Regions from separate parts of the Homo sapiens genome. Here region 1 is linked to region 2. A link means that fine-mapping ties the variant in region 2 to the expression of a gene that starts in the linked region. Tissue or cell type: whole blood. Region 2 holds a variant in brackets; the other region holds the start of a gene. All regions are shown on one strand. Distances are from middle to middle. Region 1 holds the start of WDFY3 (WD repeat and FYVE domain containing 3). Region 2 overlaps WDFY3 (WD repeat and FYVE domain containing 3).

The links. PIP is the estimated chance that this variant, and not a neighbour inherited with it, causes the effect.
Region 1: it holds the start of WDFY3, and the variant in region 2 is fine-mapped to the expression of WDFY3 in whole blood (TOPMed, PIP 0.94).

Annotation. Positions count from the first base shown.
Region 1 is chr4:84,959,031-84,975,513 of GRCh38, reverse strand. WDFY3 (WD repeat and FYVE domain containing 3) reads left to right here and starts at 8,824. Exons shown (of 68, transcript NM_014991.6): 1 at 8,824-9,305. WDFY3-AS2 (WDFY3 antisense RNA 2) reads right to left here and starts at 9,898. Exons shown (of 4, transcript NR_152775.1): 1 at 9,656-9,898; 2 at 5,638-5,789.
Region 2 is chr4:84,936,027-84,952,509 of GRCh38, reverse strand. All of the region lies in intron 1 of WDFY3 (WD repeat and FYVE domain containing 3), which reads left to right. Among named protein-coding and RNA genes, the nearest start is that of WDFY3-AS2, 21 kb to the left of the region's middle. The variant G/A (reference allele first, on the strand shown) is at 8,568.

The DNA.
Region 1 (16,483 bases), 23 kb before region 2:
TTCTTATTTTGTAAATCGGCAGAGGGATATACAAGATAAAATCACTTGGAATTTTTTTTTTTTTTGAGACGGAGTCTCACTCTGTCACCCAGGCTGGAGTTCAGTGATGCAATTTCCACTCACTGCAACCTCCACCTCCCGGGTTCAAGCGATTCTCCTGCCTCAGCCTCCTGAGTAGCTGGGATTACAGGCACCCACCACCACGCCCAGGTAATTTTTGTATTTTTAGTAGAGACAGGGTTTCATGATGTTTGTCAGGCTAGTCTCGAACTCCTGACCTCGTGATCCGCCCGCCTCGGCCTCCCAAAGTGTTGGGATTACAGGTGTGAGCCACCACACCCGGCATAACTTGGAATTTAAAACCAAAATTAATCAACATAGCTATCTTTAAATTGTGTAAAATCCATGCAATTATAGTTAGTATTTAATGTCATGGTATGTGCATTAGTCTGGGTTCTCCAGAGAAATAGAATATTAGATAGATGATAGATAGATAGATAGATAGAGAATAGATAGATCGATAGATGATTGATAATACATAGATAGATGATAGATAGATATATAGATAATACATAGATACATAGATTTATCATAATGAATTGGCTTAGGTGGTTATGGAGGCTTAGAAATCCCAAGATCTGCAGTTGGCAAGCAGGAGACCCAGGGCAGTTGATGATATAGTTCCAGTCTGAGTCCAAGTATGAAAGCAGGATAAGACTGATGTTCCAAGTCAAAGACAGTCAGGCAGAGAGTAAATTCTCCCTTACTCCACGTTTTTAGCTCCATTTGGGCCTTGGACAGATTGGATGAGGTCCACTTACATTGGGGAAGGCAATCTGCTTTACTTGGTCTGCTGAGTCAGATGTCAATCTCATCCAGAAACATCCTCAAAGACACACCCAGAATGATGTTTAACCAAATATTTGGATATTTCATGGCCCAGGTAAGCTGACACATAAAATTAACCATCATAGTATGTCGTTAAATTAAACTTGGATTTATTTTTTTTAAAATGAGGCTGGGAGTGGTGGCCTATGCCTGTAATCTCAGCACTTTGGGAGGTCCAGGCAGGAGGATCGCTTGAGCCCAGGAGTTACAGACTAGTCTGGACAACATGGCGAAATCTTGTCTCTACTTAAAAAAAAATTTTTTAAGGAAAATGAGTGATATTATATACATAATATAATTGATTTTATAGAGTCTCACTATGAATTCAGAATGATTTAATTTCGTGATAAGCCAAGTAAATATAACTCTATTTGTTTGTGACTGGTTTTATCTAGAAACACAAGCTATTGAGGAAAATTTTTAAATAAAGTAACTGTAGGTTTTGTGCTTGGTTATTTTGTTTGTTATTGTGTCCCTCTACCCCATCCCATTATCTGGAAGTTTCAAAAGCACAACAGCAAAAAAGGAACTTGATTTTTAAAGATTATATAATGGTGGCAGAAATGTCAAGAGATAAGGAAGAGCAAAAGAGGAAACACAAAATATTGCAGTGATAGAGAAGATCTCAAAAAAAACTAGGTCAATGTTTGACTTCATTCACAGTTGCTCCTCAAATATGACATTGCCTTGAGGATAGAGTGCCCTCAAATTAGCACACATTCTGATTAGGAGAGCAGGGTCCAGTAGCCAGTGTTAAAGGAAACAAACATGTTTTCTAGTCTTGTCATAACACATGAAATAAACAGGAAAAAAATATAAATTAAATGTGTTTGGAATCATCAATAATCCAGCATATTTTATTCATTCCTTAAATGTGTGTACTTTGTTAAGTTATGATAGGTGTCAATTGCTTGATTCAAAACTTCTCTACCATGATGTGGAATAATTTTATAATGTAAAATGGTAGTACCAAAACTGGACCAATAAAGAGCCAAAACACAGTCATTGTCCTCACTGAATTTATAGGCATAAACCACATAACATAAAAAACTATAAAACTGCATCTGTGATTAGTGCTATGAAGGAAAATTGAGTGGTTCTATGAAAAATTTAATGGTGGGATTTGTGACTTAGTTCAGTGAAGACATCGTTAAAGTAGATGAAGAATAGAGGCAGGTAATCGATTGTGCAAAGGCCATGTGGCGAAGGGAGCATGTCAAGGAGAAGGGACTGAACATGCCAGGGTAATAGCAGTAGAGGAAGTGCATTAAATTATGGATCATGTCGACATTCGAGAGGTGGATGGTTGGCCAACTATGCCAGGTCCTAAGAACCACTGAAAATCTGTAAATGGAAACAATGGATTGGAAGAGATTCAAGTGACTGTGGGTAGACTAGATAAAAGGTTATCTCAGTTGAAAATATGAGACTAGGGTAGTGCCAGAGAAAATGGGAAGAGGTGTTCATGTTTGAGAGTTATTTGGAAGTAAAATTGGCAATCATTGGTAATGGATTTGATGCAGGGAACGGGAGAAATTGAAGTGTTATAAACCTTTTGAGGTTTCTGAGTAAAGCAATACAACAAAAACTCCACTCAGATGGAAAGCTCAAAATACAGTTCTTGAATAAGCCCAAGGATTATTTATAGTAATTGAGGACAGGAGCAAATACTTATTAGACTGTAATTTATATGTGTTGATAATAATTTGTGTGCCCCACTGGAGCAGCAGGAGGTACTCCTGTACCATCTTGTTATAGTTCTTAAGACATTATCATTCCTGGTTGATATCTTTCTCTAGACTGTGAGCTCCATAAAGGTGGACAGTAGGTTTTTATTATATCTCTTGCAGGCAATCTAGTTTCTGGCACAGCAATCACTCAAATATTTGCAGAGTGAAGTAATTAGGTCATGACTTAAACTTTACATTATTTTATTTTCCAAATTATTTTTACTGTAGTTATACAATTTAAATGTCCTTTTTTTTTAGACAGAGTCTCACTCCGTGGCCCAGGCTGGAGTGCAATGATGCAGTCTCGGCTTGGCTCGCTGCAACCTCCGCCTCCCAGGTTCATGTGATTCTCCTGCCTCAGCCTCAGCTGGAATTACAGGTGCCCGTCACCACACCCAGCTAATTTTTGTATTTTTAGTAGAGACGGGTTTTCACCATGTTGGCCAGGCTCGTCTCAAACTCCTGACCTCAAGTGATCTGTGTGCCTTGGCCTCTGAAAGTGCTGGAATTACAGGTGTGAGCCACTGCACCCAGCCTTAAGTAAGTTTTAATGTAAAATTTTTCTATATTCAAAATTTCCAAATAATAACTTTATTTCCTCATTTACATTTAAGCCCTATTATTGCTGCATTACTAATTATGGTCAGAATTACCTGTTTGAATAATGATAACAACCACCACCACATGCTAGTTGTGATGATTAATTTTAGGTATTGACCTGACTGAATTAATGAATATATAGCGAAGTGATAAAGCATAATTTTGGGGTGTGTCTGTAAGGGTGTTTCTAGAGGCAATTGGAGCGTGAGTCTCAGTGGACTAAGTGGGGAAGATTCACCCTCAATGTGGGTGGGCATCATCCAATCAGCTGGAGGCCCAGATAGAACAAAACAGAGGAAAAGTGAATTGGTCTCTCTGTCCTGAAGTCGGGATACACTCTTCTGCCCCTGGACATGAGAATGCCAGGCTCTCCAGCCTTTGGATACCAGGACTCACACCAGCTCCCCTCTGGGTTCTCAGGCCTACATACTTGGAATGAGCCACGCTACTGGCACCCCAGGGTCTCTAGCTTGCAGATGGCCTGTTGTGGGACTTCTCAGCCTTCATAATTGCATAAGCCAATTCTAATAAATCCCCTCTCCTGTATCTGTATCTATATTTTATTGGTTTGGTCTCTCTGGAGAACCCTAACTAATACAGTAGCATAGGATATAGTCCTAGGTGTCCATCTAGGAGACTGAGTAATTTTGTATCACCCAGCATAGTGCTTTTTAGCATACTTTAAAGAATTATGGAATAAATTAACAGACCTCTCGCTGGTTACAGATGGTAAAAGACCAACTAATTTTTCATTCTAGTCAGCAGATGGCAGTGTTTTACTTTATTTAGCTAACTGAGGTTTGTTTCCTGAGTCTTGCAACACTCACTTTTAACTTAATCCATGAAATAACACAGTATTTTTGAGTTAACTTTATACTTTTTGAACCATAAATAAATGTTATAGGAGTTGTTTTAGGTTTTTAAAAATCGCACATTTTTTAGTCAACTTGAGCTTTCTTAAGCTATCTTTAAATTTGCTTTTTACATTAATTGCAAACAATTGCTCTCATTTTTGTAAACAGGAAAACCCTGTTTATTTACTTTATTCCTTAGCTTTATTTCTAAGAAAGGTCAACGCTGAACATTAATTCTGGAAATTAAGTTTAAATTATATTTAACTGAAGATGGCACAGTTAAAAGTTTCTTTGGTTGAGTTTCTCTCCTCTAAGATGAGCCCTGTCAACTCTGAAGTTATGGGACTTGAGACTGAGTCAGGAGACCTGGATTTCATTCAAATTGCTACAAAGTTTGCACTAGATGATCTATAGTGAGCCATTTGAATAATTTTTCACCAGAATTTTTAATGAGTGAAATATGCTCAATGTGTATACTACTATACAGTCGACCCTTGAACAACGCCAGGGTTAGGAGTGCTGTTGCCCTCCCTGGCTGCTGTGCAGTTGAAAATCTGTGTGTAATATTTGAATCCCCAAAAACTTAACTACTAATAGTCTACTGTTGACCAGAAGCCTTACTGATAACATAAAGCTGATTCACATATATTTTGTATATGTATTACTTATCTTTACAATAAAGGCAGAGAAAAGAAAATGCTATTAAGAAAATCATGAAGAAGAGAAAATATATTTATTATTCATTAAGTGGAGAAGGATCATCATAAAGGTTTTCATCCTCATCATCTTCAGGTTGAATAAGCTGAGAAGGGGAGGAAGAGAAAGAGTTGTTCTTGATGTCTCAGGGGGGTGGCCAAGGTGGCAGAAAATCTACATAGAAGTGGATTTGCATATTTCAAACCTGTGTTGTTCAAGGGTGAAGTGTATTTATCTTGTAAAAACATTGTAAATATACTGGTTTTAAAAGTCTGAACTCTCCATAGAGAAACATAAAGGAACTGAAAATGAAGAGGACCTTTAACTTTAAGTAGAAATAGAATTTATTAATAACAAAAGTCTTCAATCCCCCATCTCTATTATAATGCTGATAATTATGATGAACAAGGGCAAAACGTGATACTATTCTGTTTCCTCCTGTGAGCCTGTTACTCTTTAAAGTTTAAAGAAGCTTTATTACATATTACTTACTTAAGTATAAAGAGAAACAATACATCGAGCTACACACATGCCTCTTCCCAAAACAAAACAAACTCTCCAATACCTCTTTTGAATGTATTTATAAGAAAAACAACAGAAAAAATCTCTAATTAGAACTTTCTAAAAGCATTTCTCCCCAATTAGAGTGCAGTAATGACTATAAATGGCACTGTCTCAGGGACAGCTCATCAGTTAATTATAAGTAGTTCTATAAATTGAGGAGTGAAGAATGATACTAAATTTCAATCAGTGCAGATAAATATGGCTTGTCATTATTCAATTGATATTTTTGACAGTCCACCTAAAGAGGAAGATGCAGAACAGAAATATTGTCTTTTCTAAAGAATGGAGATTATGAGAACATTTACCTTAGACTATATTCTTGTCTGGAATATGGTTTTCATAGACACTCAATTCCCATGATCCCCAGAGACTTTCATTGGCTTGCCCAGTTTCTTTCCATCTGGTCCTTTCAAACCAGGAAAAACAATATGGTAATTCTATTGTTGCGTCTAGTAGCCTGGAAAAATGGAAATGTATATTTAATATAATATGTAATATAGTGGCTCAGTAATTTTTAAATATGTCAATTAACACTTCCATTCTTTTTGATTTTTGTGTCCCAGCATCATTTAGCACTCTATGTTCTGGAATAAATATCTCAAAATTCTATAAATTACATATGCTCATCTCTGGGATAATGCTACCTGACCAAGTTTAAATTATTTCCTGTATAGTCTTAAAAGCAAACATGTTAACAAAAAGTTAACATAAAGAAAATAATTGTTTAAATAGCAAACTGTTAATATGTATTATTTAACAATTTTCCAAAATTGCTGTTTTCTATTATTTTTTCTTCCTCTTACTTTTAGATATTTTTCATGAACCTTTTATCTCCATTTTCCTTCCTTTAAAATTATGTTTCACTCATTCATGTTCATAGAATTTTCAATCATGTTAAAAGCAAATATGGGTTGTTTGCTTATTGTCACAGATAGCCTCTTGGTTATCATTCTCCACAGTCACCTTATTCATGAATTGTAAGTTGGAGATCAGCCTCCCAGTGCAGAACTGTTTAGAAATAGCCCTTCATGCTTGCTCCTCTATTCCCAGAGGAGTTTGCTGCACATGCCTAGATCTCTTTCCATCTGGCCTCTGCACAAAGGGTTTATCCCACTTTAACACAATTCTTTGTTTTATAGAGGACCTTGACTTTATCTGAGAGTGAATACATATGAAACAATAATCATGTTGCAGGAAAACCTGATTTGATCATTTTTTTTTCGTACTTGATTCCTAAGATGACAGTGAAACTACAGTTAGCCAGCAACAAAGACTAAAGGCTGTAATGATGACAGAGCTGTAAAAAAGTAAATGTGAAGGGTCTGATTTTTCCATTATTACAGTACTTACGTTTATGTGGCTTCAGTAAAAAAGAAAAAAAAAACTTGGTACATTTATTTTTATGTCTATCACTGAAAAACCTTTGTGAGTTTGTAAGACATTAATATGAAAACGGCTGCTTTTGCATACTGATAGATTTGTGAACTTTATTGCAATATATGTTTTAACAGAAAAATATAATTATAGTATTTTAAAATGTAACTCTTCCTCCCTCAGTGTAAATAAAATCACAATGACAAGAGTCCTGAAACCTCTAACTGAAAATCTTCCTTTAAAAATGCATGGTGGTCTTAATGTTTAAAAGAAGTCAGCCTATTTTCGCAGTGTATATTCATGTTATCTAACGTTCTTTTTTCTCCAATTATTATACATACAGTTTTATAAGTGAATATTTAAGAGTCAAGAATTTTGTGGTATTTTGCCTAGAAATAGACTGGAAGAACACAAAATCTAAATAAAGAATAAACACCAAAAGGCCAAAGGGAAAGAACAAAAAAAGTACATGTACATGCATATGCACACACACACCCCCACATAGGTGCTTTGTTTTTAATAATTTATTTCAAAACGTATTGTACAATGCTGTCTCAAATACTTTATTTGGGTTTAAAAGAGTTGTAGATGTTAGTATAGGTTGTTGATTTCAAATGGAAAAATTATTGGCATTGAAAGATGGCAACTGAAATCTTGAACCTAACAGTTAATTAAGGTTACTTCGTGAGGATTAAATATTAGAATTCTGCTCCGCCCCCCACCAAAGGATACCGGTATTTTTACTAAAATATATTTTTAGGTTTGTTTTGGCATATTCTTTTCAAAGAGATTTGAAACTCTTAAATTGTTATAATTACAAAATCTTATATTTGAACTTTCAAAACATTACTCATTTTGAAGTAGAATCTAAAACTACATTTAAAAACATTTCTGCCCACATTTGGTCTGTTTAAGGGACTAACCTTTGAACACACTAGTCTTATTTTGAAAGGGCAAGGTGTTTTTTTTTTTTAATAGCCAGTGCCCCACAGAAGAAAAACTGTGACACCCCCCCCCCACAAAGTGCTCATATATATCACCTGTGTTTGTTAGCAATGTTACCTCCAACTTTGTTATCTTGGAGTAATTGACGAGTAAATCATTACAAATGGGTCCAACTCTAAAGGCAAAATCGTCAAAAAGAAGAAAACAGCAAATCCAACTTGCCTTATGTTTATTAGAGGAAATCCTGAAACTTCTGTAGATTGCAGTGTTAGGAAAAACAAGTTTGTGATTACAGCGATGTTATGACCACTTCCCCACTCTAACTCTGTTGTTTAAGGGAGTCCACTCCTAACTGCTGACTCAGTTTGTCTTTACTGCCAGAACTGAAGCGTGACCCAAATTGTCTGCTGGGTTGAGTAGGAACAAACGGGCAAAATGATGATCACTTGGCAGTTCTAGGTTTACTAAAGGATACTTATTTGGTCTAAACACTGTTTGTGGGACTGCAAAGGTATAAATAATGCCCCTCCCAGGAAGGAAAAGGAAAATCTAAAATCTTAGGCAACCGACTCAAGGTCACTGACGGAAGGCACCATTTGAGACCGAGCTCCTCAACTACAGTCCCATCACGGACGGGAGCCACACAGGAGAGCGTGCAGGAGTTTCGAAGCTGCGTAGTACAATAGCTGGCGTGGGCAGTTCTTTTATACTCTGGCTAGAGTAAAATTAACGCACCTTTGCGTTTCTCCATCGCCTCTGACAGCATCCAGCTAAAGGGTGTAGGGTTAAGGAAAGCGGAACCCAGTTGTCCTTTCTCAGCTGAGTCCTTTCAGAAACTGGGACTGAGGAGGGTGAGCGCCGCGGAGAGGGGCAGGGGTGGGAGAGGAGAGAGGGGCGCGGGGCGGGGAAGAGGCGCGTCTGGAAGGCAGTGGGGAGAGGGACTGAGAGGAGTGGGGTTGAAGTCCAGCTGGGAGCATCCAGCGGCGCTGTCTGCAGACAGGGGCGAAGGCAGCCGCTGAGAGTGAGGCAAGAGCGGGAAGCCGAGGGAAGGGAAGGAAGTAAGGAAAGAGGAAGGAAAGGCAGGAGGGGGTAGAAGCTGAGCGGCTGCAATTTCTGCGGCCGGCTCAGTAGGAGGAGCAGGAGGGGAAAGAGGAGGATCCAGTCAGTCAGTCAGACAGCCAGCGGGAGGTGGAGAAAGCAGGAGGAGGAGGAGGATTAAAGATGGCCACCAACAGCTGCGGGAAACGGCAACAACCCCTCACTTTCCGGGATGGTCCCTGCGGGTCGGCCCGGCCTTGATGGAGAGAAGAAACCCGAGGAGCGCCGAGGCTGAGGCGGCGGCGGCGGGGACCCAGCGAGGACGAGGACGCGGCGGAGCAGGGACGGGGGCAGGAGAAGGGAAAGGCGGCGGCGTCGCTGCCCCTGCTGCCTAGCACCGCTGCCTGGCCCGGCGGACCGGTTCCCATACCTCGCGGCCGCAGAATCGAGCTCGGGCCCCGGCCCCCGGCCCGCGGCGCGGGGCTCCCGGGCCCCGCCGCGGACGTCGCGCCGGTCGCCCCTTCCCCGTAGCCCGTGCGCCCTCGGCGCGGAGCCCCGGCCCGCCGCGGTCCCGTCTCCTGGGCCTGTCCCGCCCGCGCCCTCCGCCGGCCCTCAGGTGAGTACCCCCGCCATCCTCCCCGCCCCCCGCGCTCCCGGAGAGGCGGTGCTGCCTCGGCCCGGCGCGCCTGGCCGCTTTGTTCGTGCGGGGCGGAGGCGCTGCCCACTCGCGGCCCTGCGCCCGCTCCCCCTAGGGACAGGCCGCGGCCCAGCTGCTGTCCTCCCCAGGGTCCGCCTTGGCCGGGAGCCGCCGCCGCCGCCAGGGTGGGCGGCCTGGCCCTAGTCCTCCGCTGCCTCCTGGGGAGGGCGCCGTCGCGGACGGGTCGGGGTCGGGGTCACGGGCGGCGAGCGGAGCGGAGCGGAACCGGGATATTTCGGGGGATAGGGGAGGAGAGGGCTGGACGTTACCTGTGGGAAGCAGTGGGGGCGTAGGCGGCCCTGGCTCGCAGGGGTAGGGGATCAGGCCCTGGCCCCCCCCCGCTGCATCCTGCGGGGTCTCAGCTCCCGGAGCCACCCGGACCTGAGCGCAGCCGAGCGCGGCCTCCATCCCTCGGGCGCTGTCTCCAGGGCTTCGGGCCTCTCCCCCTACGCCCTACGCTGGAAGCCCTTCGATTATGGAAGGAGCCAGAGATGCTCCAGTTCTCTTGTACTGGGGATGTGGTGGCATCGCAAACATTCACAGTTACGGCGGGATTTAAGAAGCAGATGAGACCTTTCCAACCAAAGGCCATCTGGCTAGTGTTTGAGCCTCAGGTGCAGTTTTTCATTGATTTTTACCATTTAATTGTGAGATCTGCAATATCAGGTCTTCCTTTCACAGAAACAATGTGATACAACCAGATTGAAAGGATATTTACTGCATATGTGAACCCTTGCATGGACTTCCAGTACCTTAAAAATGGTTAAGTGTTTTCTGTTGGAAAATGGTGCTCATGCATACGAAAAACTATTTTTGTTCAGTAATGGTTGCCAACTGGTTTACTATGTAGTTTGAACACCAAACAATTAAAAAGGAAAAACAAAACCCTATTCTTCGGGCTTTTTAAATAGTGGCATATTTCCAGGTTGGTATTTGGTAGCAGGTTGAGAACAACTGGTTTCGACTATCAGGCGACGTAACAAACATAACATAAAACAGAACTAAAAATGTGCTAATTTATAGAAAAACATGTTGTATTAGTGCATAAGTCTAGTAAAAAAATCCGACTTTAAAAAAAATAAAACTTTATCATGAGACTCTTAAGTATAGGAATTAGGTTGGTATGTTTTTATGTTTAAAAATATATATTGCATTAGAATTGAGAACTCTTCCTATGATATTTGAGCAATAGTAAAGTATGTTAATACTTTGAACCATTCTATCTCAAGCTGCTAGAAAGAGGTTTCTACTGCTAGTTTCTTTCCATGAGTTAAAATGGATTCATCTGAAATATATGTATGCTTTTGGTGGGTCACAGTGGGTCATGCCTGTCATTCCAGCACTTTGGGAGGCCAAGGCTGGGGGATCACTTGAGGCCAGGAGTTAGAGACCAGCCTGGGCAACAAAGAGAAAACAATTTTTGTAAAGAAAAAAAAAAATGTTTCAAAAAATTTGTATCACCTCCAAAAAGGAGGGATAAGTTAGAAAATACAATGTTCTACTCTTGCATAATCTGTTTTTGAAAAAGTAAATGACAGTATATTTCAATATTAGTTGGATTCTCTGCTTTGAAGAGATTCTTAAATTCCACTGCTCAACTTTGCAATTTTAAAAGTTTACATCAGTTGTTCTTAATTTATTTATTTATTTCTTTTTTTAGAGACAGGGTCTTGCCCTGTTGCCCAGGCTGGGGTGTAGTGGCACGATCACGGTTCACTGCAGCCTTGAACTTCTGGGCCCGAGTGATCCTTCTCCCACAGCCTCCCAAGAAGTTAGGACTACATGTGCATGCCACCATGCCTGTCTAATTTTTCTATTTTTTGTAGAGATGAGGGTCTCCCTGTGTTGCTCAGGCTGATCTTGAACTCCTGGCCTCAAGTGATCCTCCTGCCTTAGCCTCTCTAAGTGCTGGGATTACAGATGTGAGCCACCATGCCCTGCTTCTTTCTTAATTTCATGCATATACTTCTGAGGGTCCTTGGCTTCCCAGAAATCATATGCAGAATATAGCATATATTTGCTTTTTTCCTAGATAAAGACTCTGTTGGGTGATCACATTCTCAAAAGGATATGGGTCTGTAAAAGATTATGAACTTCTAGATATAAAATTAAAGAATACATATTCCATATTTGGAAAGCTAAAATTTTTAAATTACATTTGATGATTTATGTCCTTCATTTCTGATTATGCCCAAGAAATGTTTGTGATTAAGAGTTCAGCACATAGACGTTGTTTCTAACACATTCTCATTTAAATCGAAGGAAAATATTAATCCCATTTTACAGATGGGGAAATAGAACAAGTTGTTTTAAAGTCATACAAACACTGGTGGGCCAACATGTGAACCCAGACTGTCTGAAGTTAGAGCCAGCATTCATAAACAGGGTATACTAGACTTTGATCGGTAATACCATTTGATTGATGTTAAAATAAGTAATTGATGTTTTAGTTAGAATTGCAAAGTATATCTGAGATTATCATAGCATACAATATCATAAGATTTTAGAGCCCTGGACCCCCAGTATGAAGAGATCTTAATGATACTAACCTCTGTTAATGATGCTAGTCTGAAATCACACCCGAACTAGGGTCATTTCTACAGCATCTTTGGCAGGATCATCCACCTCTGATTTTAGTATTTCCTGTGATTACGAATTTCCCCTCTTCTTTTTTTTTTCTTGACCTTTTTTTTTTTTTCTTTTGAGATGGAGTCTTGCTGTGTTGCCCAGGCTGGAGTGCAGTGGCATCATCTGGGCTCACTGCAACTTCTGCCTCCCGGGTTTCGAGAGATTCTCGTGCCTCAGCCACCCAAGTAGCTGGGACTATAGACCCTCGCCACCACGCCTGGCTAATTTTTGTATTTTTAGTGGAGACGGGGTTTTACCCTGTTGGCCAAGCTAGTCTTGAACTCCTGAGCTCAAGTGGTCTGCCTGCCTCTGTCTCCCAAAATGCTGGTATTACAGGCGTGAGCCACCGTGCCAGGCCGTTTTTTTTTTTTTGTTTTTTTGTTTGTTTGTTTTTACATTTTAAATCTATATTTCTATTTATGTCGAGTCAAAATCTGCCTTCCTGATATTTACACTGATAAATCCAGTTCCCCCTTGGTGTGTGTGGTGTATTTATCATCCATGAAATGATTAAGAAATAAATGGCGACCGGGCATGGTGGCTCACACCTGTAATCCCAGCACTTTGGGAGGCCGAGGCAGATGAATCACCTGAGGTCAGGAGTTCAAGACCAGCCTGGCCAATATGGTGAATCCCCGTGTCTACTAAAAATACAAAAATTAGCTTGGCCTGGTGGTGTGCACCTGTAGTCCCAGATGCTCGGGAGGCTGAGGCAGGAGAATCGCTTGAACTGGGGAGGTGGAGGTTGCAGTGAGCTGAGATGGCGCCACCGCACTCCAACCTGGGTGACAGAGTGAGACTCCATCTCAAAAAAAAAAAAAAAAGAAATGGCTCCTACTTTAATTTTTTAGAGTAATGTTTATTGAAGCATAATTTACATGTAGTGAAAGTAAAAGTTTAACAAATGTCTATAATTGGATAGTCTCCACCACAGTCAAGACATAGAAAAGGACGTTTCCGTTACTCTAAAAAGTTCACTCATGCCCTGTCATGAGTCAGTCCTCTACCTCTACACTCCCAGCCCCTGAAAACCGTTAATTTAATTGATGCTCTTAAAGTTTTATCTCGTCTGGCATATATAAATGGAATTATACATTATGTAGCCTTTCGTGTTCCCTTGCACTTAGCGTAATGCTTGATATTTATTAAGTTGTTACATGTGTCAGTATTTTGTTCAGTGATGTGCTGGGAAATGTCTTAACAACATACTCTTCAGAAAAAAAAAAAGAATCTCTGATTTATAGCATTCGCTAATCATTGTAGTGTAAACACTGTCACTATGGCCTAAATTAAGCTACCAGCTTACAGAATTCCTGAAAATTTAACAATGGGCTCCCATGAGCTGGTACCAGCCAGCTCCAGCACAGTTCCTTTTTTTGTTGAGTAACATTGTTTTACACCAGGGTAACACAATTTGTTCATCCATTCATAAACTGATGGACATTTGAGTTGTTTCTAGTTTTGATCAAATATGAATAAAGCTGCTATAAACATTTGCATACAGGTCTATGTGAGGGACAAAAATGTTCAGTTTTCTTGAGTTAATACCTAGGAGTGGGATTTTTGAGTCCTAGGATAAGTGTATATTTATTAATATCAGTAACCTTTTTATTGAACTACTGAATTGTTTTCCTAAATGGTGATATCATTTTACATTCCTACAGCAATATCTGAGAGTTTCAGTTGCTTTACATCTTTATCAGCACTTGGTATTGTCAGTTATTAAAACTTTAGCCATTTATTATATGTGTAGTGATCTCCTTTAAATTTTTTTACTCTTATTTTCAGTAGTGTTTAGACTCAGTATAGAAAGTTTATGATAGATATTTATAAAAAAATAATTTTCTTTAGCTTGGGCATCAGTTATGATCTCACTATGAAGGCTGCAGCCTTTAAAGGCTGTTTGTTGAGTTTTTACTGTGCACTCATCTTTCATGTTGTTAAAATTACTTTTTGTAAAGGAATAATCATTAGGGAATTATTCTAATGCTTAGCTGTTAGCAATTTAAAAAATGAACCATTTTAAACAGGTAGATAAAGCTTTGTTTAGAAAATTAGAATTAAAAAATTTATCATAAAGAATTTTTTTTTTCAATTTTACTTGGACTTAAAGGGAAAAAAAGATTCTTTGTGGCTCCCTGTATGCCAACAATTTGCTTTGATGGGATTTCACCAAGTTCTGTAAACTCATTGAATTGTTCTTTATTTTAAAATCTTGAGGACTGTCAAGTTAGTTACTACTCTTTCTGAAACCACAGTATCAAAATCTTTTTTTTTTTTTTTTGAGACAGAGTCTTGCTTTTGTCACCCAGGCTGGAGTGCAGTGGCATGATCTCAGCTCACTGCAGCCTCCACCTCTCGGGTTCAAGCGATTCTCCTGCCTCAGCCACCCGAGTAGCTGGAATTACAGGCATCCGCCACCACGCCCGGCTAATTTTTGCATTTTTAGTAGAGACAGGGTTTCACCATGTTAGCCAGGCTGGTCTCGAATTCCTGACCTTGTGATCCGCCCGCCTCGGCCTCCCAAAAGTGCTGGGATTACTGTGCCTGGCCAAAATCTGTCTTTGAAATTTCACGTAGTTTTAGTGTGGACAAAGGATTAAATTACACATAGCTCATATCAACATTTAATTTTCAGTAGTAGAATACTGGGTTGCCCCGTTGGAATAAGATATCATTCATTCAGAAGATGATATGAAATAAAACCCTTAGAAGAGTAACCTGCCAGTTGCAGTGGCTCATATCTGTAATCCCAGCACTTTGGGAGGCCAAGGTGGGTGGATTGCTTGAGCTCAGAAATTCGAGACCAGCCTGGGCAACATAGTGAGACCCCTTCTTTTTTTTAAAATAAGAAGAGTACCTTGTAAAATACATAGTCATGTTAGACTGTAAATAAGAATAGCTATATTCACAGTTTGAGTACCCCGTAATAATGAAAGATGTTTGTTTAAACATCTCAACAGTTCTCACGGAAAATAGATAATTTGTTCAGTCATTGATTCATACATTTGTTCGTATACATACACGAATGTCTTGTGCATGTAGTATTCAAGGTCCTTATCATGATAGAGCTTACAGTTGAGTGGAAGAGACTGTTGAATAGGGTATCACATACGTGAGGTGTGGATGCTGTAGGTAGGTACATATGGTGTGGAGGTGGGGTGGGCATGGAACTCAGACTTCAAAGTTTGGAAGGACTTCCAGGAGGAAGCATTGTCTTCATTGAGAAATCTGGAGGTTGAGTAGTTAGGGGAAGTGGCTGTGTAGCATTAATAGAATGTGCAGTTATCCAGAGATGAGAGAAAATGCAAATAGCAAACATATCAGGAATATTATTTTCAAATAACAGGCCTCTAAAGCCTACATTTATTGCCCCTACCCAATCTCAGTTGAAATTAGGAAGGTTAATGGGAAGTAAAACTAGGGTAAAAACCAAAAAAACAAACATTTACTATACTATTGAGGTATTTTTTGGTAGTTTGCTTATTTCTAACATTCATAGACTGACATAATTCGATCATATTATCTTTGAACTCATCCCCAGATCTTGTAAGAAGCGTTAATATAGATAAGATTATAGCCTTCCTTTTTTAACATTTAGGCTAATTCTCATCTAATACTGTAATGTTTATTCCTAGTTAAGTGTATTTGATTTTTATTGCTGCCATGAAGTTCATCAAGTTTTGTTTGTGTGACAAGTATTAATGACATCTGAACCACTGATTTTTTGCTGGGATATGTCCAACTGCTGGTTTAGACATATCTGCTGAGATATTTACACAGGCATGTCAACCTCAGCATGGCCCAAATGTAACTCATAATCGTTCTTCCAAAATGTATTTTCTTCTCCTATCTCCTCAGCTTGAGTAAATGCTGTTAGCACCTGTTCTGTCACTAGATTGAGACTGGCAGTCATCATCCACTCCTCAGTCTTCCTCACGTCTCACATTTAATTAAGCATCAGGTCCAGTTGTTTTTATCTTCTAAATGTTTATCATTTTCAACCTCCACCTGCCAGAAGACAATTTTGGGGCCTGTATTTCCCTGCTGAAGTATTAGAGAGGTCTTTTAAATATTCTACTTAACTGCAGTCTCACGTCTTCTCATAGATTACCCTCACACTCTTTCCAAAATGAATTGTTTTTTGTTTTAATTTTTTAAAATGTGAAATTGTGGTCTTTCCAGTATACCTTTTTTTTTCTGCTTAAAATTCTTGAATAGATCTTAAGTCATTATCAAAGAGGCGCTAAAACATGGGGTTGCAGTCTATAAAAAACTCTTTGTAACCTGGCTCCAGCTTCTCCAGTCACATCTCTGACAGCCATTCATTTGTTCATTTTTTAAAAAAAGACTTGAGTGTCTGCTGTCTGTTAGGCACAGTGCTGGGTGATAGCGCTATATCAGGGAGCTTAAATTCTAGTGGTGAGGGGAGTAGATAACAAGTATTACTATTGTCAATTGTACTGTCA
Region 2 (16,483 bases):
GTTCTGTATAAAGGGGTGTTGTTTTTGCCTCAGGTCATTCAGTATAGCAGATGGTACATTGTACCTGGTCAAACCTGAAGCATTTCTGAAAGCTAATTTCTTTGTCAGACCTATAGAGAGCAGAAAATCTTTTGAGTTTGCTTCAGTTATACAATAAATATTAATGAAAAATGGTGTCATACATTCTTTTATGTTCTCCACCTCTTTTTCCGCAGAGACCTAGATTTATATCTGAGTCACCAGAGTAAATAAGTTCAGTGATTCCCAGCTTGTCTTAGGTTGCATAACCACCACATGGGTTGGCATAGGTGTTTTTACTTTCAGGAGGATGTGAGGAAGCCTGTCAAGACATGGCAGCTGCTGAAAATGCATTAAGGCCACTACTACCACTGATAGGTATTTGTGTGGTTGGAGCAGGGCAGGGAAAAGTTGTACTGCATTGCTTTTCTGAGGTAATAGTACTTGTCATCTCTATTCATAGCTTGGAAAAGAGTATTGTGTCTTTCTTAGAAGGCTGATTTTTCTTTCTCTGTGGATTTTCTTGCACTTTCAATTTTCTCAGCCTGACTAAAACTTTCATCAAAAATGAACTACTTTTTGACTGTGGCTTGCCAATGTTGATAGATGTTTAAAAGTCTCCTCATATTCCAGCCTTTCTTCTTCCTACCCTGCTTATTGACACCCACTTTAGCACAGGGTTTAATAGTGGCTTTGCCTATCCTGATGTCATCTGGCAAAGCATCATTCCAGTCCAATGAAGATTTTGTTTGGCAAGCACTATTTTAATGGAAGAAAACTGGTTGCATTGCAGTATCTAATTGTTACTTTGGTTTTGTTATTTAACATCGGGCATGGCTTACGTTCACATCTGTGTGCTTTTTTGAGTTTTGTTAAAGTTTAGAAGTGATTTTACTATATAGCATGTGTGGCATGTTGTTGAGATATAGATATATATCATACTTCTAAGTAGCAGAAGTAAGTATTGTGCACAGGCTTTAAGTTAGATTTTTTATATTACATCATCTGTTATCATTTAAAGGATCAATACAAATTGTATTTTTATTTAAAATTTTTAAAGATGGTAAAGTAATTAAATTAGTAAAGACTGCTCTGGCATCAGATAATCTGTTTTCTTCATGAGAGTTCAACCCACTGTGACTTCTGTTACAAAGGAAAGCATGTCTGTGAACAGCAGTTTTGAAGATTTTTGTATGTTCATGTTGATGGAAAAAATATGATAAAAACAAACGAAGAAAATAGAAGATAAACATGTTGACCAGTAACTCATTCCCGGATGCCCGAAATACAGAGAATTCCTATTCAAATAAACAAGTAATAAAATGGACTTTTAAAAGATAAATATTAAGCATCCTGTGAGGAAAGGGTCATAGGAATATAAAATTAGAATAGAGGTAAATAATTGCCTGGCAAGAGGGAAAGAGTACATGAAATTAATCTCCAATGTGAGATGCATTTTGCATTGTGTTTATTAATGAATAGGGAGTAGTTTTTGGAAAAAGTGAGTTTCTCAGCACTTACATTACACTTTGTCTCCTTAGGGTAAGGCCCTCCCTAGTAATTGACATTCTGCAGTGATTGTATTGCAGTATAAGCTGAGTACATTTGACACTTTACTAACCATCTCAACTCTTGATTTACTTTTTCATTCAGTGTGTTTATTCAGTGTCTACTTTGTGTGCTGAAACTATTTTTCTTTTTTGAGTTGGAGTCTCCCTCTGTTGCCCAGGCTGGAGTGCAGTGATGCTATCTCCGCTCACTGCAGCCTCCGCCTCCTGGGTTCAAACGATTCTCCTGCCTCAGCCTCCCAAGTAGCTGGGACTACAGGCGCATGCCACCATGCCAGGCTAAGTTTTTGTATTTTAATAGAGACGGGGTTTCACCGTGTTAATCAGGATGGTCTCGATCTCCTAACATCATGATCCACCCGCCTTGGCCTCCCAAAGTGCTGAGATTACAGGTGTGAGCCACCTTGCCCGCCTAAAATTATTAAGATGATGAGATGCTATTACTTCTTTCAAAGAGTTCATATACTAGTTTAGCCTATATTAAATAATGTAACCTTTTTTTTTTTTTATTAAACTTTAAGTTCTGGGATATGTGTGCACAACATGCAGGTTTGTTACATAGGTATACATGTGCCATGGTGGTTTGCTGCACCTATTAACCCATCATCTAGGTTTTAAACCCCTCATGCATTAGGGATTTGTCCTAATGCTCTCCCTCCCCTTGCCCCCCAACCCCCGATAGCTCCCAATGTGTGATGTTCCCCTCTCTGTGTCCATGTGTTCTCATTGTTCAACTCCCACTTATGAATGAGAACATGTGGTGTTTGGTTTTCTGTTCCTGTGTTAGTTTGCTGAGAGTGATGTTTTCCAGCTTCATCCATGTCCCTGCAAAGCACATGAACTCATTCTTTTTTATGGCTGCATAGTATTCCATGGTGTATATGTGCCACATTTTCTTTATCCAGTCTATCATCAGTGGACATTTGGGTTGGTTCCAAGTCTTTGCTATTGTGAATAGTGCTGCAATAAACATACGCGAACAGCATCTATTTTTGAGATGTCATTGGCTTCCCACCTTAGCCACAGTATTTAGAATTCTTTATTATCTACTGCACTTGTTCTTACTGCAGTTCTGTTGGCTTATAAGGGGCCTGAGGTAAATATATTTACTTTTGTCCTTGAGTTTTCGACTACTTGGTAGTTTTTTTGGCGGTGATCCCATCTGTGGCTTGATCTTTAGCTAGGAATCAAGGTTGTAGAGAAAGCAGAGGAAACAACTTTAATGAAGGTGTAATATTAATAACAAAAGTAGATTTTGGAGAAAGTGATAGGAGTCCCATTTTTTGGCACTAAAGAGAATTAGAAATTGAATAAGTTTCATAGAGAAGAATTCAGCATTGTTCAGAAGAGGCACTGATTTATGTGACTAGATATATATACTCTTTCATTGCTCTGATATACCTTAAGTTTTGCATTAAGAAATTGCTTCTAGAACTCTTGGGAATCAGATGGCCTTTTCAATATGCTATAATCTAGAACATATTTACAAAATGTAATGTAGTCATTGTCATTTCTCCTATTTTAAAATTTATCTGGTGATTGAAAAATAAATTTGGGCGTGTAAATGTGTGGGATTCTTTCCTATATTATGTTATTGTTTTAATTGTACTATACTGCCAAGTTTCCAGCTTATGCCATTTAGAAAATAACTTTTTTCTTTTGTATATTTTCTGTTTTAAAATTCTGTGAGCTTGCTTACCTTTTCCATATCTCAAAATTTGATAGAGCTTTGTTGTATTTGTGATATGGGAGCACATGGCCAAGTTGTAGAGTAGGGCAGAGGTAACTATTATGCAGGACAGACTAGAATCAGTCCACATTTAAGGTATAGTGCTGCATGTTAAGGTCAATCTAACCTTAACTAACTACAGGCGCTGAGGAAAAGTTCTTTTTGGTAGGCCGTGCCAGGGGTAAACAGCCAGAGAATAATTCAGTCAACCTATTAATGGGAATTCAAGGGGAAGAAGCATATGGAATCTGAAATAGGAGGGTGTGTGTGTGTAAATGACGAAATGAATGCAAACATACATGCTTATATATGTATGAGTGGCCACCAGATAATTCTGTCTGTGGGTACTGGACTCTAGCTATCAGTCCTTGGGATTGGGAATTTAAAGTAGACTGCTCAGTCCTAGGAAGAGAAAAGCCAGGAAGGGATCAGACTAGGGACCTCCAAAAGTGTCTAAGCAGAAGCTTAGTTATAATAGCTGAGCTATAAACAGGAAAAGGACAGCAGAAGGGGAAGGAGTAGAACAGGGTAGGCATCATAACGAGCTAGAAATCCTAACTATCTAATCTGCAGTATGAAGGCTGGGTAATGTTAGTGATGACTTGATCCAGAATTAAAGATTGGGGCGAAACTGCAAAAACATCTTCTATCACAAGTCCGTATTGGTGATCTAGGATTTAAGTGACAGGCGAAGCCAGGCACTTGGAGAGCAGAGACAGGCTGGGCTTGACATTCTTTGATGAACTACTAAGTATCTTTTTTTTTCTATATACTATTAAGTATTGTTGATCAGTAATCATTTAGTCTGCTTTATTGGCATTGGTATGGCATCACGAGATGCAAAGAACTGCTGATGCCTCATACTAACGTCTTAACAGGGAACTGCTGCTAAAATGAACAAACTTACACACTGAAGTAAATATGCTTTCTTGTGAAATAGGAGGATATGAAAAAGCATGTTAGGCATGAGGGTTCTCATGTCACACTTTGGAAGGCAAAATTACCCTTTAGGAATTTATTTTCTGAGTTGGATAAGAGGAAGCAAGGAAAATGCATGATTATGATAAATTGACCTTAAAATGAGAACCTCCACACCTTTCATTTACTTCCTATAAAAAGTTATAGTAGCATTTTTTTGGTTGCAGTCAGTTGACACTTACTAGCTTGAGGAGGGGAAAAGGAATTAATGGGACTCATACTGGGAATGGAATGATGGATTGAACAAGTGGGTCTTGAACAGAAGATATCAGAGTTGCTTTGAGGATCTCATTAGCAGGAATTTTATTTATTTATTTATTTATTTACTTTTGAGACAGGGTCTCACTCTTTCATCTAGGCTGGAGTACAGTGGCATGATTATGACTCACTACAGCCTTTACCTTCCAGGCTCAAGTAAGTGGTCCTCCCTCCTTAAGCCCCTGAGTAGCTGGGACTTCAGGCACATGCCACCATGCCTGGCTAATGTTTTTTTTTTTTTTTTTTTTGGTAGATGTGGGGTTTTTTGATATGTTGCTCAGGCTGGTCTTGAACTCCTGGACTCAAGCGATCTTGACTGCCTTGGCTTCCCAAAGTGCTGGGTTTACACGTGTGAGCCACTGCGCCCAGCCTAGCAGGAATTTTTATTTTATTTTATTTTATTTATTTATTATTTTTATTATTATTATTATTATTATTATTATTTTTGAGACGGATTCTCGCTCTTTTGCCCAGGCCGGAGTGCAGTGGCACAATCTTGGCTCACTGCAACCTCCACCTCCCGAGTTCAAGCGATTCTCCTGCCTCAGCCTCCCGAGTAGCTGGGACTACAGGCCCGTGCCACCACACCTGGCCAATTTTTTGTATTTTTAGTAGAGCTGAGGTTTCACCATGTTAGCCAGGATGGTCTCCATCTCCTGACCTCGTGATCCGCCCGCCTCGGCTTCCCAAAGTGCTAGGATTACAGGCATAAGTCACTGTGCCCGGCCCCTAGCAGGAATTTTTATACCTTCTTCCTAGACTCCTGCTATTAAGGTGACTTTGCTGTAAAGATTTAGTCTCTCTCTGCCTTGCATCTTCAATTTATATATTCCATCAAGAAAGGATTAAATTGGCCGGGCACGGTGGCTCACGCCTGTAATCCCAGCACTTTGGGAGGCCGAGGCGGGTGGATCACAAGGTCAGGAGATCGAGACCATCCTGGCTAACACAGTGAAACTCCGTATCTACTAAAAATACAAAAAAATTAGCCAGGCGTGGTGGCAGGTGCCTGTAGTCCTAGCTACTAGGGAGGCTGAGGCGGGAGAATGGCATGAACCTGGGAGGCAGAGCTTGCAGTGAGCGGAGATCACGCCACTGCACTCCAGCCTGGGCAACAGAGCGAGACTCTGTCTCAAAAAAAAAAACAAAAAATGAAAGGATTAAATTAACCTCGTTCAGATCAGGTGTCTGTCTGTACTAGAGCCAGGGTATGCAGACTTATGATGTATAGCGCGCTAGGAATATACCTCGGTGCTGGGGGTCATTCCCAAAGAAGGGGAAGTCAAAAGCTGGGCAGCCCTCCTAGGTGTCTAGAACATCTCACTCTTTGGTAGCTTAACCACTGCTTTTCCTGTCTCTTTCCCTTTGCTTTCCTCCCCACTAGTAGAGATAACCCTGCTATCCCATGTATTGATGCAGTTTTTCCAGTGGGAGAAAAGCAAAAAGCAAGTTGAAGTACCATATCCAGAGGCAGTGCCATAGGGCTACTGACTCTGAGTGATATCATGCTGCCTCCTGGTTCCATTGTGATTCTTTCTTGATATTTTACAACCTAAATTTAACTCCTGCCAACTTGCCATCTGCATGCTTGAGGGAAAGGAAGAGGAAATAAAGAGAAAATGTATTTAAAGGGAAAGAGAAGGGTACTTATCACACACCAGTGACTATTAAGGAAATAAATGGTGGCCACAGTCCTTAGTTTTACATCTGAGCACAAAGCCCTAACCTGTTTCACTTCAGATTACATATTTCTGTTACCTTCTGCTAGTGTCCTGGCTTATCAGGGTTCTGTTTCTAGGAAGCTAACTCAGTCCTTCATTCCCAAAAGGGTCTGAGGTTTGGTAGTTCCAACTGTATAGAATTGTGATAATCTTTCACTCACATTAACACTGTGTACGGCACTGCCAGAGAATATGAGATTCCCCCAAGTTCTTTTCTCATGATCTTCCTAGCCCCAGGTGTGCAGTAGCAACCTGTCTTCTCCTTGATGGTCAGGAGCAGTCACCTCTGTCAATTCTATAGCCTCCATTTTTGCTTGTTTTTTTATTGTTATGAGGAAATAAAACTCTGCTTTCAATTGAGTGAAACAGTTATTTTGTTTCTTGGTATAAGTATTTCATTCTTGGGTACTAAATAAAATTTCTAGATCAACAGATTCCAGAGTTCTTGAGACAAGAAGCAGAACTTTGAAAGCAGATGAAATATACCACCTCCACCATCACCACGTTCCCACATCCAGTGTGTTCCGGAGATGGGAGGATGGGAGACATCATATATTAGTGGGTGGTTCAGAGCTTATTTTATGTACTATAGGACAGCACCCCAATATCAGAAGGTTTCAGGTGGCGCAACAACTTGCATGTCAAGCTTCAAAATGCCATTACTCCTCTGTGAGGACAGCTGTGTCTGAATAAGAGTCTATTTGATAAGACTAGTGAGGTCCCTGGGCATCTGCCCATCACCATTTGAAGTGAGTTCCTGGATCAGAGGCCCTGTGAGTGTGATTTATATGAAGCATTCACTTAATCTTGAATGGTGGTGCTGGCAGAGACAAATTCAGAATTGGTGTTTCTTATAGTGAAAAGCAGCCATCACCATTTCTGTAATGCAAAGGGTTTGTTATAATTTACCTGCTAAGAAGTAGTCTCTCTTTGGGGGACTCAGGCAAATGTGTTCTCAACAGTAGTGACAGTGACATCAGTCTTAATGAGTTCGTGCAGATTTGCCCTTGCATAACTGCTTCTCCTTCCACCTGGTGGTTTTCATGAACCTATTGAGCAAGGACCAGGCTGGCTGGAGGAGTATGAGTTGGTCTGTGATGTGGGTCATCTTATCCACTCAATTACTAAGAGGCTTTGTATTTTGATTTGTTAGCAGAATTCTGGTGAACATACACATGGGACAGGAATTTTTTTAGGCTGTGACCCTGTTGTGAGAGGTTCATTCAAGTAGCTATTCTGAGAATCTCCCTCTTTTTTATCTTTTGATCTTTTCAAGGCCATTGATCATGACACAGAAAAGGGAAGGATTATAAGCTTTCCAGCTACTCCAGGAAGTGTCTACTACAGAAGTAATAATATATTCTATAAGTTCCCAAAACTTAAGACTTTCAGCCACATCCAGTGACTATATGTATTATTTATTTATTTATTTTTATTTATTTTTTTGAGAGGAAGTCTCACTCTGTTGCCCAGGCTGGAGTGCAGTGGCGTGATCTCGGCTCACTGCAACCTGCCTCCCAGGTTCAAGCAATTCTCCTGTCTTAGCCACCATGCCTGGCTAATTTTTTGTATTTTTAGTAGAGACGTTGTTTCACCATGTTGACCAGGCTGGCCTTGAACTCTTGACCTCAGATGATCCATCCGCCACAGCCCCACAAAGTGCTGGGATTACAGGCATGAGCCACTGCACCCAGCCTGTTTATTTTTTGATACACGGTCTGACTCTCGCCCAGGCTGGAGTACAGTGGCAAGATCTTGGCTCACTGCAGTCTCCTCCCTCAAGGTTCAAGTGATTCTCCCACCTCAACCTTCCAAGTAACTGGTACTACAGGTGTGCGCCACCATGCCCAGCTAATTTTTTGTATTTTTTATTTTAATTTTTTTCGTAGAGAATGGGTTTGTAGAGGCTGGTCTTGAACTCCTGAGCTCAAGTGATCCATCCCCCTCAGCCTCCCAGAGTTCTGGGATTACAGGCATGAGCCACCATGCCTGGCTGATTTTTGCTTCTTAAAGTTAGGAGTGATAATTTTGGAATAATTAAAGACTAATAAATAATACTTATATAAAGCTATTTATTCAGTCAGCGAAAAGATATTTAGAGTCTTATTGTTTGTTTTAGCATATGTATTTGACAATCAGGTGCTTATTGAAAATCATTACACGAGTTAGTTTTTCATGTAATTATACTTAAGTTGAATTTCTTTGCTTTCCCCATCAACCTAAAGTTTCCATTTAAAATTTGCTCTATAATTAACAAAAGTGCCATATATCCTAATCTGGAATGTTTATAATTCA[G/A]AGGTCAAATTGGAAGAGGGAGGCCTTCAACAGTTACTCTTCCTTGCTAATTTTAGACTTTATGTCTGTGCCTCTGGTAGGGACCCAACACAATGAATGGCTCATGACTGGTAGTGTAAAGACTTATTTTCCAGTTTTTAGTATGTGTAGGCCAAATTGTATCACCCTTAGGCTATTTACTAGTTGATGATGATTTTGTCACCTTTAAAGAGCAGTTTTTTTTGTTTTGTTTTGTTTTTCAATAAATTTATTCAAGTACAGTTGATCTTTGAACCATGTTGGGGCTAGGGGAAGTGACCTCCTGTGTAGTTGATCTGCATATAACTTTTTTGGTTTCCCCAAAACTTAATTACTGATAGTGTTACTGATAACATAAACCGTCGATTTATACACATCTTGTGGGTTATATGTATTATATACTGTATTCTTTTTTTTTTCTGAGACGGAGTCTTGCTCTGTCGCCCAGGCTGGAGTGCAGTGGTGTGATCTCGGCTCACTGCAAGCTCCGCCTCCCTGGTTCACGCCATTCTCCTGCCTCAGCCTCCTGAGTAGCTGGGACTACAGGTGCCCACCACCACGCCCAGCTAGTTTTTTTGTATTCTTAGTAGAGATGGGGTTTCACTGGGTGTTAGCCAGGATGGTCTCGATCTCCTGACCTTGTGATCCGCCCGCCTCGGCCTCCCAAAGTGCTTGGATTACAGGTGTGAGCCACCACACCCAGCCATATACTGTATTCTTACAGGAAAGTTAGTTAAAAGAAAATGACATTAAGAAAATCATAAGGAAGAGAAAATATATTTACTGTTCATTAAGTGGAAGTGGGTCATCATAAAGGTGTTCATCCTCATTGTCTTCACACTGAGTTGGCCGAAGAGGAGGAGGAAGAGAGGAGTAGTTGATCTTGTCTGATGTGGCAGAGGCAGAAGAAAATCCACATATAATTGGACAACACAGTTCAAACCCATGTTGTTCAAGTTTACTGTATATACGTAAGTAAAAGTAAACAAATTGTAAGTTGAAGCTTAATGAAATTTCTCAAAATGAACATGCTTCACCATTTAAAAAAAAATAAAAAGGTTAGCCACAGACTGGTAAATATACTTGCAAAACATATACATACTTGGCAAAGGATATGAACCAGAATATATAAAGAACTCTCACAATTCAATAATAAGAAGACAAAGAACCCTGTCGAAAAATGAACAAATAATTTGAACAGATATTTTACCGAGGATATGTGAATGACAAATGCATGTAAAATCTGATGATGTTAAGTTTGGTAAGGATATGCAGCAACTAGAAGTTTCTTCTCATTCATTCCTGGTGAAATGGTATAGCCATTTTAGCAAACAGTCAACTAGTGTCTCATAAATTCAAACATATTCATTAGGATCTATAAATTCCATTCCTAAGTATATCTATAAAAGAAATGAAAGCACATGTCCACAAAAAGGCTAATGTTCATAGCAGCATTCAAAATGTTTTAATTTGCTTTTCATAAATAATGGTAGTGAGCTTTCATTGCTTGTTTGCTGTATGTATCCTTTTTTTAAAAGTAAGTGTCGACATCTTTTATTCTTTTTAAAATCAGTTTGCTTTTTTTTTATTGTTTAAAGAATTCATTATATATTTTGGGTTCCAGTCTGGTATGTGTTTTACAAATACTTTCTCCCAGTTTTTGGCTTAATTTCATTTTTATAACACTGTGTTTTGAAGAGCAGAAATTAATTTTGGTGATGTCCACTTTGCCCATTTTTTTCTTTTATAGTTTTTACTTTTTATATCCTGTTAGAGAATTTTTTGCCTAACTCAAAGTAACAATGATTTTCCCCGAAGTTTTCCTCTGGAAGTTTTATAGTTTTAGATTGTACATTTATGTCTGTGATTTGGTTTGAGTTAAATTTTGTATATAGTGTGTGATGTGTGGGTTGACTGAAGTTTTTGTGAGTTTTATTTATTTATTTATTTATTTTTGGGTTGTGGATATCTGATTACTGTAGCACTGGCTAGTGAAAAATTTTTCCTTCCCTATTAAATTGCTTGACATCTTTGTCAAAAATCAATTGACCATGTTTGTGTGTATCTGTTTCTGGAATTTCTGTCCTTTTCCATTGATCTAGGTGCTTTTACCACTGCCACACTATCTTGATTACTGTAGCTTTTTAGTAAGTCTTGAAATCAGGTAATATGAGTCCTCCAATTTTGTTTTGTTTCCAAATCGTTTTGACTATTCTTGATTTCTTTTTTGTGTAAATTTTAGAGTCATCTTGTTGATTTCCAAAAACGAAAGTCTACTCTAATTTTGATTGGGATTGCATTGAATCTATAGGTAAATATGGGAAGAACTGATTCCTTGAATATATTGCCTCCAAATCCATGAACATAGAGTATCTCTCTATTTACTTAAGTCATCTTTGGTTTATTTCATCATTGTTATCAATGATTATCTCATTAGTGATTATTTCATCATTGTTTTATAGTTTTCAGTAGACAGATTTTGCACAGTTTGTTAGAATTACTCCTCAGCATTTCATGTGTTTTGGGTGCTATTATAAATGGTACTATCTATCTATCTATCTATCTCTTTATCTATAACTTTTAGTTGTTTCATTGTTAATATGTAGAAACACAATTGATTTTTGTATATTGAACTTTGTATACTGCAGTCTTGCCAAGTTCCCTTATTAACTTAGGGAGGTTTCTTTGGTAGACTCTTTGGGGTTTTCTATCTATATATATAATCATGCTGCCTGGAATAAAGACAGTTTTACTTCTTCCATTCCATTTTTGCCTTTTATTTATTTTTCATGCCTTATTGCACTGGCTAGGATTTCTAGTATATGTTAAAAAGAGAAAGCATTCAGTCTTTCTTCATTAAACATGATGTTAGCTATATCTGTTTTAAAGAGGCTGTTTATCAGGTTGAGTAAGTTTCATTCTATTCCTGGTTTAGTAGAGCTTTTATCATTAATAGATGTTGAATTTTGCAAGTGATTTTTAAAATATCTATTGAGATTATATGGTTTTTAATCTTTATTTTATTGATAATGGTAAATTATGTTAATTTTTTGAATATTGAATTAGCCTGGCATTTCCAGGATAAATGCACTTCATCATGATGTAATACCCCTTTTATATGTTGCCAGATTTGGTTTCCTTATATTTTGTTAAAAGTTTTTGCATTTATGTTCACAAAAAATATGAAATTTCTAGTCTTTTTTTCTCTTAATCTCTTTGTCTGGTTTTGATATCAGGATATTGTATCTTATAAAAGGCTTTGGGAAGAGCTTTCTTCAATCTGGATTGTGCTGGTTAGTATAAACAAGAATATATAGTGTGCTATCTTTTATGTAAGAAAAAAGGGAAAATAACACATACATATATATGCTTGACTTTACAAAAAGAAGGGGTAGTGAGAGGTAATGGGGCCAGAGGTTTATGGGAGGCAATGACACTTCAAAGTAAACCTTTTTTTAAAAAATATAGTTTTGGCTTTTCATAGTGTGTTTTTTTCAGTATTCAAAATAAGGACGGAAATGGGGAGAATCCTAATCCACTGAAACAAATGAACCTGAATGTATTTTAAATTAGTATTGTACCCCCATTGAGGGAACAAAGAGTAAATCTAAGTAATTTATTACTAATAACATGGTGCTATAACTATAACCATATACCGTCAGCTTGGGTAGAGTTGAAAGAGACGGGTTGCAGGCAACTCTTGAACTCATTCTATTAGGTTTACTTTTCATAGTGATATGGACATAGCACTTCTGGGACTTTTTAGGTGTATTGGGGATTGAGTAAATGTTTTGAGGTTGTTGGAGTGAGGGTTCTCCCTGAAGAAGGAGAGACACACAAATATGGGGTGGGAGAAGGCATAATAAATTCTGTGCAGGTGGATTGGAATTGAAGGTATCAGTGAGTTCATGATGTTTTAAGCCAATATATATGTACATGTAATTGCATGTACAGACATATGTACATAAATTTGTATGTGTATTTGCATTCATACATTTCCTAGCTCTGTCCAGTAAAAGGGCTAAGAGGCAAAGAGCATACCTAACTCCAAATTCTTGGAATTAGAATTCTGTAATACCATTCTCAAGTCAAAGGAACCAGAGCTCCTCACAGAAATAGATGATTCTAGGATAGGGTAGGGCACATACCATGTGAGCCTGGATTATTTTTCAATGCGAGAAAATAGAAACTTTTTTTTTTTAAATAAGAACATGTCACAAGAAGCCTATTGGCATTCCTGCTAGCCAAATTTGAGATAATTTAATAATCAAGTAAGTATAATAATAAATTATGAACCATTAGAAATAGGAATAAATCCATAATGATAATAAAAATAAGTGAATGAATAGAGGAGAAAGGAAGGCTCTTTCTTCCAGTAGGACTCTGAGCTTTAGAGTTGGAAAAATCATTATTTTGTAGCTAGCGTAGTAGATATTAGGTAGGGCAAGAGTCATAACTAAATGAGGGAGAAATTTTGATGAGAAGCAGGATATTTTCGATGTCTTAAAGCATCACCCCACAGACTGTGTACTAATTGCAAGGGATAATATAGTGATTATGCATTGGTGCGATCCAACAACAATATGGGGCAGATGGTCACCATGTGACTCCAGATAGGACACCCTGAGGGGACACATCATCTCCTCTGTAGTATTCTGGCCAAGACTGCATAACCTGAATTTAATCACGAGGAAACATTCGACAAGTGCAAAATAAGGAATGTTCTACTTTAAAAAGCGGGGAGGGAACTGTGGTCCTTAAAAAAGTCAGTGTCATAAAAGAGAAAGAAAGGCTATGGAAGTGTTCCAAATTAAAGGAGGCATAGAAGAGAGAACCACTAACAGTACCTGACCCTAGACTGGATCTTATACTGAATGGGGGAAAATATACCATGCAGGATGTTATTGGATCAATTGAAAAATTAGAATATTGGAATATAGACCATAGAATAGATAAAAATATTGTAACAATGTTATAATTACTGAAGTTGATCACTGTGCTTTCCTTATAAGAGAAAGTATTGCTAAAGAAACACACATTGGAAGAAGAGGAGGAAAGGGCTTGATGTATATAGTTTATTCTCATTTGCTCCAGGAAAAAAAGTGTATGTGTGCATGTGTGTGTATGAATGCAAGAAAGTGTAAAAGCTCAGGAGCACAAATGTAAAAGTAAAGAGGTGACATTAGTAATGGCTGAATCTGAGTATGAGTGATTTTTGTATTTTTACTAACTTTTCTGTAAGTTTGGAATTATTTTCAAACAAAATATTGAAAACATTTAAAAATATCTGCCCTTTATTTTTAGACTTTCCTCATTTATAAAGAGCTTGGTTCTTTCTCTGGAACCAGTTTGGAATGAACATTTTTGTAATATTTTCCTGTGTGCTGGTGTTACGGCCCTGCATGCCAACCATTGTTAAATATGACAGCAGTTAGTGGGAAAGAAATGAGTCATTCTGTGGACGGCCAGAGTCTAAAACCTAATAATAAGGGGAACTATTTGTTAATTTATCAAATTTATGGAAGTATCAGTTACAATGTCTAATAAAATATTTTGAGGTTATCATCATTATCAATTATCTTTTGAAGAAATTTTAGAATGATTCTTTTACATCAAAAATCTAGTTGTTGTCCCCCAATTATTTAGATTATCTTGTTTTATAAACTAGGAAAGATTCCCATTTTTAGCCTTAAGAGAGTAACTGTTTATTTATTTTAAAAAATGTTAATTGGATGCCTGCTATGTGCCAGATTCTTTTTTAGGCATTGGAGCTGTAGCATTAAACTAAACAAAACCATTGCCCTCATAGATTTTACATTTTCATGGAAGGACATAGACAAATAGGAATAGAAGGGAAATACACCTGTCAGAGTATCGCAGTGCTTATATCCAAATAACCCTTATTTTACTTAATAATGGCCCCAAAGCATAAGAGTACTATGCCTAATTTATAAATTAAATTTTATCACAGGTATATATGCATGGGGAAAAATGTACTGGGGGTCTTGGAACATATCCAACCCCCAACCCACACAGATAAGGAAGGGTCTACTGTAATCATCTCTTGGAAAAGCATATAGGGAGAGAATAGCAAGTATAAAGGCCCCAAGGCAAGGATGTGCCTGGCCTGTAAAAAGAATGGCAAGGAAGTTGGTAGGAAATGAAGTCAGGGGTAATAGGGGCCAAATTTTATAGGTTCTTTTATGTCATTTTTTAAAAAAATGGCCTACTCTGAGTGAGATGGGAAGCCACTGGGAGATTTTGGGAGCAGATGTTATACGATTTATGATTTATGTTAGGTTGTCTGGATCACTCTGGCTACTTCGATGAGAAAGGACTTGAAAATAGGACAAGGGTAGAAGTTGGGAGACCAGTTACTAACCTATGGCAAAAATCCAAGTGAGGGACAATACAGACTTTGACCAAAATAGTAACTATGCAAGTGGCGAGAAGTGGTCAGATTCTCAGTATTTTTGTAGATAAAGTCAATAGTACTTGCCAGTGGGTTAGAGAAGAAGGCTAACAACCTAAACTTTAAAGGTCAGGGAGAAGAGGAGGAACTAGGAAAGAACGCTGACAAGGAGAGGTCGATGAGATAGGATGAAACCAATAGAGTTGGTTCTGGAAGCCAATAAAAGAAAGTGTATCAGCATGTGATATGTCATGCCAAATGCTGCAGATAAGTCAAGAAAGATGAGAACTAATAGGCCTTTGGATTTAACAATATTCAGGTAATTGATGACCTTGAATTTCAGTGATGTTGTGTAGTAAAAGTCTAATTGGAGTGTGTTAAATTTGAATGGAAGTATAATTGTAGACAAGGAGTACAAGCTTGTGATGTTTTGCTAAAAAAGGAATCAAAGATATTGGCCATCATCTAGAGGCATATAAGGAGTCGAGAGGTTTTGTTGTTTGTTTTCTAATGATTGGAAATGTATTTGCCAGTGATTTTGCTTTATTGGAAGGAGGAAATTGATGACGTAGGAGAGAGAAGTGGGATTTCCTAGAGCAATGACATTGGTGTTCTAGGCATGTAACATCTAGTAGCAAAGTAGAGGGGTTAGATTTTGATGTGAATCCTGAAATTCAGTGAAAGGGTACAGATTCAGGTGGGGAGGTAAATGTCATGAGAGATTCTGGAAGTTCTCTTCTGATTGCCTGTGGCTTTTGAATTTTTTTTTTCTTGTATGATGCATTTCATCAGATTACCTGGCAGGAGTCCTGGGAGGCCTTAGGAGGACTCTAAAACTGCTTGTTAAAAATTTTGAAAATTTATTTTTTGTTATTATTTAGTTTAACTGGCTACTTTGTATAAAGTTTGGAAAGAGACTCCACAAAATCTTTCTGGGCTATTTGGAAAAAAATTTTCTCATTGATCTTCAAGCCAAATAATTTTTTTTAAAAGAGACAGGGTCTTGCTATGTCACCCAGGCTGAAGGGCAGTGGCACGTTCATAGCTCACTGTGGCCTCAATCTCCTGGACTTAAGTGATCCTCCTGCCTCAGACTCCTAAGTACCTAGGACTACAGGTGTTTGCCACCATGCCCAGCTAATTTTTAAATTTTTTGTAGAGATGGGGTCTCACTATGTTGCCCAGTGTGGTATCAAACTGCTGTTCTCAAGTGATAGTCCTGCCTCAGCCTCACAAAGAGCTGAGATTACAGGCGTGAGCCACCACTCCCCACCCAAAGAGTATGATAAGACCCAGCACAATTTCCATTTTAAGTATTAATATAAGAAAACCAACTCAGAAGACATAGATAGGCCAGGGAGATATAGCTAATCATCTAGCTAAGTCTGGAATTCAGGTTTCTGTGGCATTTCAATGTACACAGTTTAATTTCAAAATTTAGTTTTTATACATATGTGCATATACATTTAAACTTAATCCTCTGACA